2 linked regions of the Homo sapiens genome follow. The protein of the gene in region 1 interacts with the protein of each later gene in a pairwise test. Each region holds a gene or a part of one and is shown on either strand. Other genes may lie near its edges.

Evidence for each region.
Region 2: the proteins of LYN (region 1) and SKAP2 interact in a protein complementation assay, tested with the Homo sapiens proteins (one study listed by BioGRID).

What each region holds. Positions count from the first base shown.
Region 1 is NC_000008.11:55,994,829-55,998,649, reverse strand, and holds part of LYN (tyrosine-protein kinase Lyn), read right to left. Parts: intron 305-3,821; coding exon 151-304; intron 1-150. UniProt on the Homo sapiens protein: Non-receptor tyrosine-protein kinase that transmits signals from cell surface receptors and plays an important role in the regulation of innate and adaptive immune responses, hematopoiesis, responses to growth factors and cytokines, integrin signaling, but also responses to DNA damage and genotoxic agents.
Region 2 is NC_000007.14:26,735,422-26,739,242, forward strand, and holds part of SKAP2 (src kinase-associated phosphoprotein 2), read right to left. Parts: intron 3,458-3,821; coding exon 3,374-3,457; intron 1-3,373. UniProt on the Homo sapiens protein: May be involved in B-cell and macrophage adhesion processes. In B-cells, may act by coupling the B-cell receptor (BCR) to integrin activation. May play a role in src signaling pathway.

The sequences.
Region 1 (3,821 bases):
GAACCATAAGCAGACAATTATGGTACAGCTTAAATGTTGTACCAAATAAGTTTTTCTTAATGGTGACTATTGTAATTGCTTTGTCAAAAACAGACAAAAACAAAATAAAACACAATAATAAAACATCTAAAGATCATTAGTGCAACATACCTTCCCTTGCTGTGTACTCATTATCTTCAATTACTCTAGCAAGGCCAAAATCTGCAATTTTGCACATGAGTGACTCGGAGACCAGAACATTAGCTGCTCGCAGGTCCCGGTGAATGTAGTTCTTCCGCTCGATGTATGCCATTCCCTCTGCAATCTGAAAACAGAAATAGGCTCCCATTTTCATATGTAGGGTAGGTGACTGGAAAGTGCCATCAAGGAAAACCGGAAAACTTATGAATTCCTGAAATCTTTTCATGTATACTATTTTGATCATTCAGCTTTTAAAGACAGTGGGTAATGGCAATCACCATTTGAGCCCTTTCTAAAATAACTGACCACCCTCTGCCAAATCTCCAACAATGGTCATCTTAAAAAAAAAAAAAGGAACATGTCTTAACATTTTCTTTTTTTTTCTTGAGACGGAGTCTCGCTCTTTCACCCAGGCCGGAGTGCAGTGGCGCTATCTTGGCTCACTGCAAGCTCCACCTCCTGGGTTCACACCATTCTCCTGCCTCAGCCTCCCGAGTAGCTGGGACTACAGGCACCCACCACCATGCCCGGCTAATTTTTTGTATTTTTAGTAGAGACGGGGTTTCACCATGTTAGCCAGGATGGTCTCGATCTCCTGACCTCGTGATCCGCCCGCCTTGGCCTCCCAAAGTGCTGGGATTACAGGCGTGAGCCACCGCGCCTGGCCATGTCTTAACATTTTCTAATGTGTGAAGAATCTTTTCAAGACCCTGCTAAATTCATCCATGTAGATACATAGATGTTATTATGCCAGTTTCTCAAATCAGAAAACAGATGCTATGGTCTGAATGTTTGTGTCCCATTCCCCGCCCCCTACCCCAAAGTTCAAATGTTGCAATCCTGAACCCCGAGGCAATAGTATTAGGAGGCAGGGCCTTGGCAGGTGATTAGATCAGGACGGTGGAGCCCTCACGAATGGGATTAGTGCCCTTGTAAAAGAGACCCCAGAGAGCTGCCTTGCCCCTTCCACCACGTGAGGACACAGCTATATGGTGCCATCTATGAACCAGGAAATGGCCCCTCATCAGACATGAAACCTGCCAGGGCTTTCCTTGCCCCTAAACTGTGGGAAATAAATGTCTCTCGTTTAAGCCACCCAGTCTATGGAATTTTATTATGGCAGCCTGAACCAACTATGAAAATAGAGTTGGAGAAAGTGACATGCTAATACAAATAAATTATTAAGGTATCAAGAACAGGATGTCGTTTCTGTCAGGTTAATCAACAGCCCATGGAACTGGCTCTCCAAGTTCTCTCTGCACATTCCCTCCAGGACAATCACAAAGATTCACTCTTTTTTTTTTTTTTTTGAGACAGTCTCACTGTCTCCCCCAGGCTGGAGTGCAGTAGCATGATCTCAGCTCACTGCAACCTCCCGCCTCCTAGGTTCAAGTGATTCTCCTTCCTCAGCCTCCCGAGTAGCTGGGATTACAGGCACGCACCACCATGCCTGGCGAATTTTTGTATTTTTAGTACAGACGGGGTTTCACCATGCTAGTTTTTGTATTTTTAGTAGAGATGGGGTTTCATCAGGCTGGTCTCAAATTCCTGGCCTCAGGTGATCCACTCACCTCAGCCTCCCAAAGTGCTGAAATTACAGGCATGAGCCACCACGCCCGGCAAGATTCACTCTCATGACAAAGTATGACAGCAGGAAAGAATCCAGGATTTAAACACAACAATAACATAGGGAGGCAAAACTACTACTCGTTGCTGAATAGAAAGTGTAGTATCGTTCCAAAGTCAGGTTTTTAAGGAAGACATTACCAAATTATAAAGTTAAGGAGAAGGAAGGAAGAAAGGAAAGGAAGGAGGGAAGGAAGGATGGAAGAAAGCAAGCAAGGAAAGAAGGAAGGAACAAGGAAATGAAGGAAGGAAGGAAACAAGGAGAGAGGAGGAAAGGAGGGAAGTAAGAAGCAAGAAAAAGGGCAAGAAGTAAAGAAAGCCAAGTAGTAGTTTATCTGGTAAGCAGTTAGAGAAAACTCTGATTCGAATTTTTCACACAGGAATGAATGTATTCTGCCAGATTCTACCTTGAATTGCAGGTGGCTCGGCTTGGAGGATCTGACTTTCCCCAGTCATCTGCAACAGTATCCCTGGTAATCAAGCACTTCAGGCCGCCAGTTCCAGACCACGTTGCTTAGCAAAAGATTAGCTCCTTGGTATTGGGTCTGCCTTTGCTTCCCCTCTAGGCCAATCCCTGGCCTCACCTTCTGCCCCGTGGGCCTTCCCTGAACTCCCCTTTACTCACCCTAGATGGTCAATGTGTACAAAAACCATCTGCAGCTGCTGATCACAGCTTTGTCATTATTTTTATGCTGTTTAATGCTCTCAGTGGTGTCATGTTAGCCAGTTGATAAACACCTCTAGGGCTGAAAATATCTTTTCTATTCTCACTTGTATACATTGGAGCCTTCAAACTTGTCACCAAACCTCTTATCAGAGACAAAGTAAGTCCTTTGGGAAATGGGCTGGGGTTTTCACATGACCAGAATACTATCTTGTTAGCCCACTACTACAGGGATTTGGCAGATGATATTCTCATGGTCACAAAAATCTCAAGTAAAATAATCAGTGTGGCCTACATCAGTCTCAAAGACTATTCAGTCCAGTATTTCACTTCCGAGTGGAAACAAAGAATGTGGTCCAAGCTCCTTTGCACTGCTGCCAAGGCCCCGTATGACCCGGCCCCGGCTCAGCCCTCCACCTCCTCACCACGACCCCCTCCTTTGTGCTTCTACACCCCCTGCCTCTGTGTGGAACGCTCATTCCCTCCCTGCCCCTTTCACCCGACCTATGCAGTTTGCCTGTCTCAGCTGAGATTTTACTTCTCCCGGAAGCCATGCCTGGCATACCCTCTCCTGCCAGGTGTGCATGCATCCCCAGTGCTCCCTGCTCCTCACCTGACTACCTGTCCACAATTTCTGCAGGAACATGAACCCATCCCAGCACTGAGCACAGCACAGCACTAAGCACAGCAGGAGGCTTCATTTCATGAGGGACTTGAGAAGTGGGACAGAGGCTGAGTGGAGCAGAAACCAGACGGACAGTAGGAAAAGGACAGGGCAGGTTTGGAGAGCAGTGACTTCGTGTCCCCTGCCTTTCTCCCAACTGTCACAAACCCTGAGCACTGGGGAGATGCACAGCTTTTACCTGACCCTGGAAAAGATTCAAACAGCCTTGATGGGAAGTCAACAGAAGGTGGGCAGTGGTGATAACCAGGTGAAGGCAGAGCTCCTGAGTCTGACTTTCTCTAGGAAGCCTCTGCTGCCCAGAAACAGCAGGCAGTGGCATGGTGAGGGCGTCAGGAAGTTCAGGATAGCTCCTTCTAGAGTGGGCACTACTGAAACAGATGACACGGGGTGGCAATTTTGGTGGCGGCTGGGAGAGAGGAGCCCTGCCTCTGTTTCCTTTTGTCTGCTGGTAACCCAAGTTCAACAAGACTTGTTAGAAAAAGCCAGTAAAACTGGGAAAAGTGGAGAGCGAAGATCAGGCTGAGCATGTGTGAAAGAAAGGAGTGTACGATTATAACACAGTAGGCTTTTGGCGATAGAACCACGATGCCTGGCTCAAACAGACCAGAGTTGGTTACAGGAGCCCAGATGAGACAGCAGCAATTGAGCGGTCATAGCTGACTCTGT
Region 2 (3,821 bases), on another chromosome or scaffold:
TAATAAATACAGACAATATTTATTGGTACAATGGTAAGTGCATTATTTACCCAACAGGTTGGAACTACTCTTTCTAAGCCACTCCTATCTTGATAGGTCAATATGTTTTTTGGCACACGCAATATGGTAGAAAATGTGAACTATGTATCTGTCAAACAGTAACAAAGCACAGTTTAACCTAGTAAGTGGTGTCAACTCCTTCTGTGCCTCTATAATCCATTTATCTAAATCCTACTTAGTTGGAGGATTATAGTTCTCATATAGCTAGATATGAGTTCTTCCCATTAGGTAAATGGTTCACACATACAGTAAACAAGGCTATAAAAAATCATATCTAATTTCACAAAAGAAAAAAATTATTTGACATATTTTCCTGGTAAGAAAAAGATATAAAGGAAGGAAATCGGGATCATGCCAAACAAGTAATTAAAAACTGTCTAAAGACAGATCTTTTTTTGGAGTCCCTTAAAAGAGAGGAACTGGCTAAAAATTTCGAATGAAACCGCCAATAGAAAAAAGAACCACAAGAAACAAATCTAAAATTTCACTGGAAACAGGAGGCTGCAAAGTAAAAGGGAAAAATTTAAGGAAACACAAGCCACATCTTCAGACATCAACATGAAAAAGGAATGCTAAAATGGTAATTTTTTTAAAGTGGAAGTGTCAGAGGCTTTTAAACCAGAGCAACTCCGTCTTGAATAGGGGCTGAGTAAAATAAGGCTTTGACCTATGGGGGCTGCATTCCCAGGAGGTTAGGCATTCTTAGTCACATGATGAGATAGGAGGTTGGCACAAGGTACAGATCACAAAGACCTTGCTGATAAAAGGATGCAGGAAAGCAACTGGCCAAAACCCACCAAAATCAAGATGGTGATGAAAATGACCTTTGGTTTTCCTCACTGCTCATTATATGCTAATTATAACGCATTAGCATGCTAAAAGACACTCCTACCAGTGCCATGATAGTTTACAAATGCCATGGCAACATCAGGAAGTTACCCTATATGGCTTAAAAAGGGGGAGAAACCCTCAGTTCTGAGAATTGCCAACCCCAGTTCAGGAAAACTCATGAATAATCCACTGCCTGTTTAGCATATAATCAAGAAGTAACAATAAGTGTAAGCAGCTGAGCAGCCTATGCTCTGCTTTGCCTATGGAGTAGTGATTCTTTTGTTTCTTTACTTTCTTAATAAACTTGCTTTCACTTCCCTCTACGGATTGGCCTCAAATTCTTTCTTGCATGAGATCCAAGAACCCTCTCCTGGGGTCTGGATCAAGACCCCCTTCCAGTAACAGAAATGACAGAAAGGGCTAAATGGATCACAAAGTAGTTAAAATGCAAATTACAAACAATGTTACTACCATTAGGTCTCATCAAATAAGAATAAAAATGAACTCAGGAATTCAAGATTGCAGTAAGCTATGATGGCACCACTGCACTCCAGCTTGGGTGACAGAGTGAGGCCCCCGCATCTCTAAAAAGAAAAAAAAAAAAAGGAATGTAACTAATATCTAAATAACTCTAACTAAAATGTTTTCATTGAATATATTAGTGTTTGAAGTAAATATTAACACGCTTTGGGTTTTGGGGAAACTCTTGCTAATCTTTGACCTAACCATTGTTATATGCCAGTCAGGACTAGAAATGGAGGAAACACTGACATTAGTATTCATTGATTCTTAAAGAAATTAGAAATGAGAAGCCTAATTGAATCAAAGTCACAAGGATCTGAAACCTCCCTCCCCTGGTCTGGTGAAAAAGAGGATATTTTGTGGAAGGTAGTATCTCGATCTAAATTCACAATATCATACAAAACTATATTTCTATGATCTGTGATAATCGTAACTGAACTTGGACTCTAAATTTTCTGACCTACTTCACTACTGACCCTTAGCAGAAGAAAGATGCTTGTTTATAGCTGTTTACAGTTTACACTTCACTGATGCCATTACTACATCTGAACATACTGTAAATTAGTGATGGAATGCAAACTAGCTACTAAATTAATTAATTTGTTAATCTCATTAGCCAAAAGGTAAGAACAACTTCCAGCATTATGTAAGTATTTCAGACTTATCTGAAATATGACAATCTTACCTGTATGTTTTTAGAATGGGGGAAAAAACTCTAAAAACTATAAATAATGTCAAATAAAACATAAATTTCCAAACAACACTGATAACAATTCCATAGGAAAGCTTACATTCAGTGATACTTTTGCCTTTTTCTTCTTAAAGTGTCCTTTCTGGAAATGAACATTATCTATTTTGATACAACCTTTACTTTATAATATTCAACTCCTAGCCTGTTTTCCCCAGAATAAAACAAAACTCAGAAAGCTTACAATCTTTAAATTTCATTATTTGGTGGCTTTATTTGTTCAAATAACAATCTTAAAATTATGTGAACTACAACTGAGAGATTTATTAATTAACAATGAAGTTATAAAATGTATCCTATTATTTCTAAATTAATGTAGTGACAATAGTGGTTGAGAACATGGACTCTAACCATATTCTCTAGGTTAAAATCCCAAATTTGAGCTGGGTACAGCGGTGTGCACCTGTAATCCCAGCTACCTGGGAGACTGAGACAGGAAGATCACTTGAGCCCAGGAGTTTGAGGCTGCAGGGTGTGATGACTACACCTGTGAACAGTCACAGCTCTCCAGCCTAGGCACCGAGACAAGACCCTGTTTCTAAAAACAAAGGAAAAACAAATTCCTAGATCTGCCATTTTCCAACTCTGTGACCTTGAACAAGTCACTTAACCTCTCTGTTCTCAGTTTTCCTAAAAGTCAAATTAATGGTGCTAATAATAGTACTTACAGAGTTGTTGTGAGCTAAACAAGTTAACATAGCTAACGTACTTAGACAAAGTGCTTAGAACGGTGCCCAGTATATAGTAAATTCTATGTACACGTTTGCTGTTATTCCTTAAATCTGTAAAGGGAGCTCAGAAAGGTGCTGTTCGTATTTAATTTTATCTAATTTTATTTTAAAATATTTAAGAAAAATAATCTATTTTCTGCCATTGAAACTCTCACAACCCTATGTTCTTAACTTTTCCAGAAATTCTACAACAGTAGGCTGGATAATAAATATTCCCTAAGGTGAAAGGCCACACAGATTAAAGTTATTTTACTCTCTTTTCTAATTCAATACAACACAATTGTTTTAGCTCTGAGGGTATTCTGGTATTTGGAGCATTTGTCAAATAATGAAATGAATCATAAATTAGTCAGATTATAATTGTTATAATTCTCAGTTATTATTAGTTTGTCTTCAGTTTACTCTGTACTCAAAAGAGGGGGAAGGGATGGCCAAAAATTCTTTTGCAATAGTAGTTGATATAATTGAACACCAACATTACCTTTATCACTTCCATAATAATAGAATACCGTTTTACTGAGAGCACACCACCGTTTCTGCCATTCAAATCCCAGAAAGCTGTGATCTGCAATAAAGAGGGGAAAATGTAAGGCCATTTCCTTACTGTAAAAGAAAAAGTTAATTAATATGATTTCTAAGATTCCTCTGAGCTCTAACATTGTGTGACTAATTTGTATCTTCTTTTCCAAGAGACAAAAAACCAAACAACAACAAACCAACACAGCTAAAGGGAATAAAGTAAAGTAGCTATGGGGCTGCCATACTTATGGGATCAACAGCATGGCTAACAAAGTTTTCTGACAGGGACAGTCAAAAAGGTATCTGACTATACAGTCTTGAGATAATTGATCCATCTGGGTCTCATTTTCTCATCTGTTATAAAAAGAAGGGGAGGAGCTAACCTAGATTATTTCTGTTATCTCTTTCAG